Linked DNA regions of Homo sapiens. The protein of the gene in region 2 interacts with the protein of the main gene of each other region in a biochemical or structural test. Each region holds a gene or a part of one and is shown on either strand. Other genes may lie near its edges.

What was found. The genes of interacting proteins can lie anywhere in the genome.
Region 1: the proteins of ARMH1 (region 2) and TRPV4 interact in a test that uses a peptide from one of them, tested with the Homo sapiens proteins (one large-scale study listed by BioGRID).

The regions. Positions count from the first base shown.
Region 1 is NC_000012.12:109,785,494-109,788,398, reverse strand, and holds part of TRPV4 (transient receptor potential cation channel subfamily V member 4), read left to right. Parts: intron 1-1,502; coding exon of another isoform or gene 1,503-1,523; exon of another isoform or gene 1,524-1,561; coding exon 1,562-1,689; intron 1,690-2,905. UniProt on the Homo sapiens protein: Non-selective calcium permeant cation channel involved in osmotic sensitivity and mechanosensitivity. Activation by exposure to hypotonicity within the physiological range exhibits an outward rectification.
Region 2 is NC_000001.11:44,722,903-44,726,091, forward strand, and holds the end of ARMH1 (armadillo-like helical domain containing protein 1), read left to right. Parts: intron 1-1,132; exon of another isoform or gene 1,133-1,219; coding exon 1,220-1,342; exon of another isoform or gene 1,343-1,417; coding exon 1,418-1,490; coding exon of another isoform or gene 1,491-1,598; exon of another isoform or gene 1,599-1,618; coding exon of another isoform or gene 1,619-1,636; coding exon 1,637-1,766; exon of another isoform or gene 1,767-1,859; coding exon 1,860-1,937; coding exon of another isoform or gene 1,938-1,941; exon of another isoform or gene 1,942-2,130; coding exon of another isoform or gene 2,131-2,233; coding exon 2,234-2,315; intron 2,316-2,388; coding exon 2,389-2,501; 3' UTR 2,502-2,689; downstream 2,690-3,189.

The DNA.
Region 1 (2,905 bases), on a different chromosome or scaffold from region 2:
TGAGGCCCCAGGGCCCCCAGCCCCACTCTACCAGCCACCCTCGTCCTTCCGAGGAGACCCACCCGACTGGCTTCCTCGGCCTTCCACTCTGAGCAAGCAGTGTCTTCTCATTCTCCCTCCACTTCTCTGTCGGTAAAATGGGCATCAGAGGCTGCTGCTGACTTCCCAGAGCTGCCTAGTGAATTTTGAGGTGGCTTCTTGCCTGGCTGCCAGCAGTGGGCTCAGATTCTCCTTGTGGTCCAGCTCACAGGACACAGTCGGCTCCACCTAGCATGACTGAGTGACTTCTGCCGGCTCAGAAAGTGCTCCGTGGGCATCAGCGTTTCAGCAGGGGTCCCACGCTGAGCCCAGGGGCAGCTTTTGTGCTCTAGCACTCCAGCACAGGGATGTCAGCATTCTCATGGGGGTCTTTTTCTAGCAACTGTGAGCATGCTTCCTAGAGGAGAAACCAATGGGGACAGGGGCCGCCTTGGCCCGGGGAGCTGCAGAAAGTTTTTACTTACCAAAAGCTTTCTATGCAATCCTGGAAAGAACAGGCCCTGGGATCACAGCCCTCCCAGGCCAGGTGCAGCCTACAAACCTGGTGTCCTAATAAACAGTGCTGCCCCACGGCCCAGGAATACAGCACCCGTGTTTACCTTGACTGTGCATTTCAGGAAAATGGTGCAGTGAGAAAAAAGGGCCCAAGGTTGTCCTCCCAGGACTGGGTCTGAGGGAAACAGCTCTGGCCTGCTCTTAACCTTTATCTATATTGCTTACTTCATTGGGCCTCAGTTTCCCCACTGGGCATTACTCACAGGATGCAAACTGGGCATCCTGTGGGCTGGAGTGCAATGGTGTGATCTTGGCTCACTGCAACCTCTGCCTCCCAGGCTCAAGTGATTCTCTGTCCTCAGCCTCCCGAGTAGCTGGGGCTAAGGTGTGCACCACCTCACCCGGCTAATTTTTGTATTTTTTGTAAAGATGGGGTTTCACCATGTTGCCCAGGCTGGTCTTGAACTTCTGAGTTCAAGCTATCCACCTGCCTTGGCCTCCTAAAGTGCTGAGATTGCAGGTGTGAGCCACTGCACCCAGCATCAGACCATTATATTAAAAACAACAACAACAACAAAAAACTGCAAAATTTAAAAATTAAGAGATTCCCTATGAAAACCCAGATTTCTGGCTTTTCTTGAAAAGTTGGAAGCTCCAGGCAGTGCAGGGTCCGGATTCCTGCCTGGCAGCCCTCAGGTGGGGTGAGTGGCAGCTGCCCCCTTACACGTGGGCATTTGCTCCCTGTTCTCCCCAGTCTCTACCCCTCCCTCACTGAGAGGCAACTGCTGTGTAAGTGTGATAGGGCTTGGGCGGCAGCCTTTCTGCACCTGATCCTGTTTCACCCATTTGTTTTCCTGCCTGCCACCTGTGGGTATTTGAGTTTATAAACCCTGTGTCTAGTGGGGAGTAGGAGTCTAAATGCCTAGTTCTGGGCCCACCCTGGCCCGTTGTCTCATTTCTGCCACCAGAGCGGCAGGCGCAGGCTGTGAGGCTCACCGATGTCCCTCCTGACCCTCCCTCCCCGCAGTGGGCCACCACCATCCTGGACATTGAGCGCTCCTTCCCCGTATTCCTGAGGAAGGCCTTCCGCTCTGGGGAGATGGTCACCGTGGGCAAGAGCTCGGACGGCACTCCTGACCGCAGGTGGTGCTTCAGGTGAGGCTGGGGCAGTGGGGCCAGGATGGCAGGGCGGAACTGTCCCCACTGGCTCGGGGCCCCTGCTGCTCCAGCGTCGTCTACCCATTGCAATTTCTGGAGCCACTGAGGCCCCAAGAGGCCCGAGCAGAGTTCATTTCCACCAGGCGATCTCAGGCAAGTCAGCCCACCTCTCTCAGCCTCAGTTTCTTCATCTGTGGAATGAGACAATGATCTCACGGGCTCCTAGGCTGGCGGTGCGGATTAGACAGGTCAGCACGTGAGAAGTGCTCAGCCAGTGCCCGACGCGCATCGGGACGCCACAGGCTCCCCTGTTCTTGCTCAGGGGGAAGCAGAGACTTGGATGGTGGGTTCATTTTAGAGCATCACCCTGTATCTACCAAACAGTGGGGTGAGCTCTAGTGCCCTCGGTGAAATGGGAAGCTGAGGAATGTGCAGTTTCCAGGGCTGGAGACCTCACCCAGCCCATCTGCAGAATGACTCCGTGTTCCAGAGGCACAGGGAGTGCCAGCTTCTTAGGGGAACCCCTTCATGAATCTTTTCTTTCCAGTTGATTCATTCATTGTAAAGTGGTTGTCAGCATGGAGCATAAGCAGAATGTTTGGAGTCAGACAAAGTCAGTTTCTTCATCTGTGAAATGGGAACAATAATAGAACCCACCTCCTAGGCCATCCGATCAGTTCAATTCCATTTTTTGTTTGTTTTTAGAGGCAGGGTTGCTCAGGCTGGAGTGCAGTGGTGTGATCATAGCTGACTGCAGCCTCCAACTCCTGGTCTCAAGCGATCCTCCCACCTCAGCCTCCTCATGCCACCATGTCCGACCAATTTTTAATTTTTTTGTAGAGATGGGGTTCTTGCTATGTTGCCCAGGCTGGTCTCAAACTCCTGGTCTCAAGCGATCTTCCCACCTCAGCCTCCCAAAATGCTGGGATTACAGGCGTGAGCCACCACACCCAGCCTCTGTTCAGTTTGAATCCAAAGCTCAAATCTTGGCTGGGTGTGGTGGCTCGTGCTTGTAATCCCAGCACTTTGGGAGGCCAAGGTGGGTGGATCACCTGAGGTCAGGAGTTTGAGACCACCCTGGGCAACATGGTGAAACCCTGTCTCCACTAAAAATACAAAAATTAGTCGGGAGTGGTGGCATGCACCTGTAATCCCAGCTACTCGGGAGGCTGAGGCAGGAGAATCGCTTGAACCTGGTAGGTGGAGGTTGCAG
Region 2 (3,189 bases):
CAAAAAAAAAAAAAAAAAAAAATTAGCCGGGTGTGGTGGCGGGCGCCTGTAATCCCAGCCTACTCGGGAGGCTGAGGCAGGAGAATTGCTTGAACCCAGGAGGCGGAGGTTGCAGTGAGCCGAGATCGCGCCACTGCACTCCAGCCTGGGCGACAGAGTGAGGCTCTGTCTCAAAAAAAAAAAAAAGGTAGCATTTATGCTGGTGTGCCATCATCTTAGCATCTCCTTCTCCTCCTGCCCCCTCTAGCTCTGTGGTTCCTTTCTCTTCTTTACAAAAACATTCAATCCTTGCCGATTTTCTCTTGTGCTCCCACAGCCCAATCACTGACTCCTTCCACAGCACCTGTCACCATATCATCGCTGCCTGTTTGTGCACGCTTAAGGAGGGTTGGTCGAATGAATGAATTCAGTCTGTATCCTCAACACCCAATGCCGCGCCTGGCACCATAGGCGTTCACATGCAGCCGTGCCGAAAGACTGAGTGAATGCTGGACTGAATGAATGACTGCCTGTAAAATATCTACAGGAAAGCCCTGCAGGAAATGCCCTCCATAAATTCTAGTCCCCTTCTCCTTCCTAACCAAATCCTCCCCTCCTTCTGCTTCCATCACTTCCTAGCTGTGTAACTTAGGCAAAGTGGTTTACCTCTCTGTGTCTAATTTCGGCAAAGGTAAAATGGGGAAGTGAACCTCATCTGGTTCTGGTGAGCTTCCACGGGTGCTGTATGGAAAGCCTGGCACCCTGCCTGGTGGAGAGGGCTCGATGATGGTTAGAAGGAGAGTTTCTCTAAACTGCCGCCTACCTTCCTTCCCCTTTCTCATTTCCTGCCACAAGTCTCCCACCCACTTTCTCTGTCTCCCTCTCACCCCTTGTCTTTCTCCATCTTGTCTTCCCGTAAAGACCCAGCCCTTCCCTCCTCCATGAAACCTGGATTCCTCCAAGGCGAAGGCCCCCCTCTCTGGGGTCTCAGCCTCCAGCGCTGACATCCTAGGCCGCCTCGACAGGTGGGCTCACCATCCAACCCTTCCTCCTCCCCCTTCAGCCCCCTCCTCCTGCTCTTCAACTGAGGTTCGCCTTCCCAGCTCCCCCACGCCCTGCACAGTGCTGATCAGTAAAAGAGGAGGACACTGACGAGTGGCGACTTGGTTCACGGGGTTCTTTGCTTCCTCGGTGGCGGAGGGGCCTGGGGCCTCTCTCCAGCACCTCTGCCCTTCCGCAGCCATCGAGTTGATCAAAGACCTGGTCGGTTACGATGTGCGCCAGGCGCTGCTCAAGGGCCTCGTGGCGCTGCTGATACCGTCGGTCAAGGAGATCTCCAAACTGCAGGCCAAGATCCTCAGTGGTAAGGACCTGCTCAAATGGGGCTGCCTGGGCCACGGGAGGGCGGTCTCTTGCCTCACGGCTGCCCCCTCCTCAGACCCCTCGGTTCTCCAGCTCACCCCCAGCCTGCCGATGTTTTTGCAGCAGGCCGCGGCCGCCAAGGCCATCGGGTAAGCGGGCAGGGGTTAGTGGGTAGCTGCAGCAAGCCTGGCTTGGCGCTGCCGGCGGGCCCCGGGAGCGCTCCGTGCGCCGGGTGGGCGGGGGTGTGCGCCGGGTGAGCCCCAGGGCGTCGCCCCAGCCCGAACCCCCGGCCCAGGGTCCTGGCGCGCAACGACATGAGCATCGCCGAGGAGCTGCTGTACCTGCGCGTGGTGCGTGGCCTAATGGCCGCCATGGGCAACACGGACCACAGCAACAGCCAGCGGCTGGCCAGCCTCACGCTGGAGGTGCGCGCGGCGGCTGGTTAGGGGGCGGGAAGGGCGGCGGCACCCGCAGCCCCGTCGCCCCCGCAGTCACGCCGCCTCGCCCGCGCGGCGCAGTGCTTCGTGCAGATGTTCCCCTTGGTGGCGGAGCACGTGCGCAAGTGCATGGGGGAGGAACTCTACCAGCTCTTCCTGGTAAGTGCGCCCTTCCTGCCCCGCCGCAATGAGCAGATGGCGGCTCGGACAGTGTGATGCCCCTTCAGACAGTCCCCATCCTGGAGCGCGCCACATGCAGAGTGGACCTGGCCACCAGCTGCAGGAGGGACTGCTCTGGCGTAGGCTCCTCCACCCGCCACCTTCCTGTTCCCTTTCCTGCCCTTTCGGTCAGGCTGCCGACCCGCCCCCCACCTGCAACATCCCTCTGCCAAGCCCAACTCCAAGTCCAGACTGCCCTGGCACCCCAGCCGGGTCCCCCTTGCTCCTGTCCTCAGAGCAACGCTGAGGACTTGTACATGAAAATAGACAGCATTCAGGCGGACATCTTGGCGGCCAACACAGTCAATGTTACCAAAGGTGAGTGTGGGACGAGGGAAGCCGGGCGCAGGCGCCGCCAGCACAGCCTCACGCCCGCCTTTCCTGCCTGCAGCCCTGTGCCTCCATGGCAGCTCCTACAGCATGAACACTCTCTATGGCTCGCGCGATTCGGCTCAGATGGCCTACCTCACACACTTCGAGGAGGATGTAGAATCAAAGGAGTAACAGCCCCTGTGGCAAACCAGGAAGGCCAAGGCTGCGGGGCAGGGAAGCCTGGCAAGAGGAAGGCGCCTGGGGTCAAGCTCAGAGCCACTCCACTTGGCTCCAGGGGGGAGACGGGGATTAGGCATCCCAGAGGGGCAGAGGAAGAGCCGCTGGCTGCGAAGAGTCAATAAACAGCCTTGATACCTGTCTGTTCTTTGTGTGTGTGGAGGGGGAAGGGAGGTCAAGTGAGAGCTATGATGCTAGATTGTGGTGCCTGTGCTCCTCAAGTTAAAAAGCAGGTCCAAGTTTAGGACGGTGGCTTGCACCTGTAATCCTAGCTACTCTGCAGGCTGAAGGAAGAAGATCTCTTGAGCCCAAGAGTTGGAAGCCATCATGGACAACAAAGCAAGACCCCATCACAAAAACAGGCCGGGCACGGTGGCTCACGCCTGTAATCCTGGCAGTTTGGGAGGCTGAGGTGGGCGGATCGCCTGAGGTCAGGAGTTCGAGACCAGCCTGGCCAACAGGGTCAAACTCCGTCTCTACTAAAAAATAAATAAAAAATAAAAAATTAGCCGGGTGTGGTGGCACACACTTGTAATCCCAGCTACTTGGGAGGCTGAGGCAGGAGAATCACTTCAACCCGGGAGGTAGAGGCTGCAGTGAGCCAAGATCACACTACTGCACTCCAGCCTCCTGGGCGACAGAG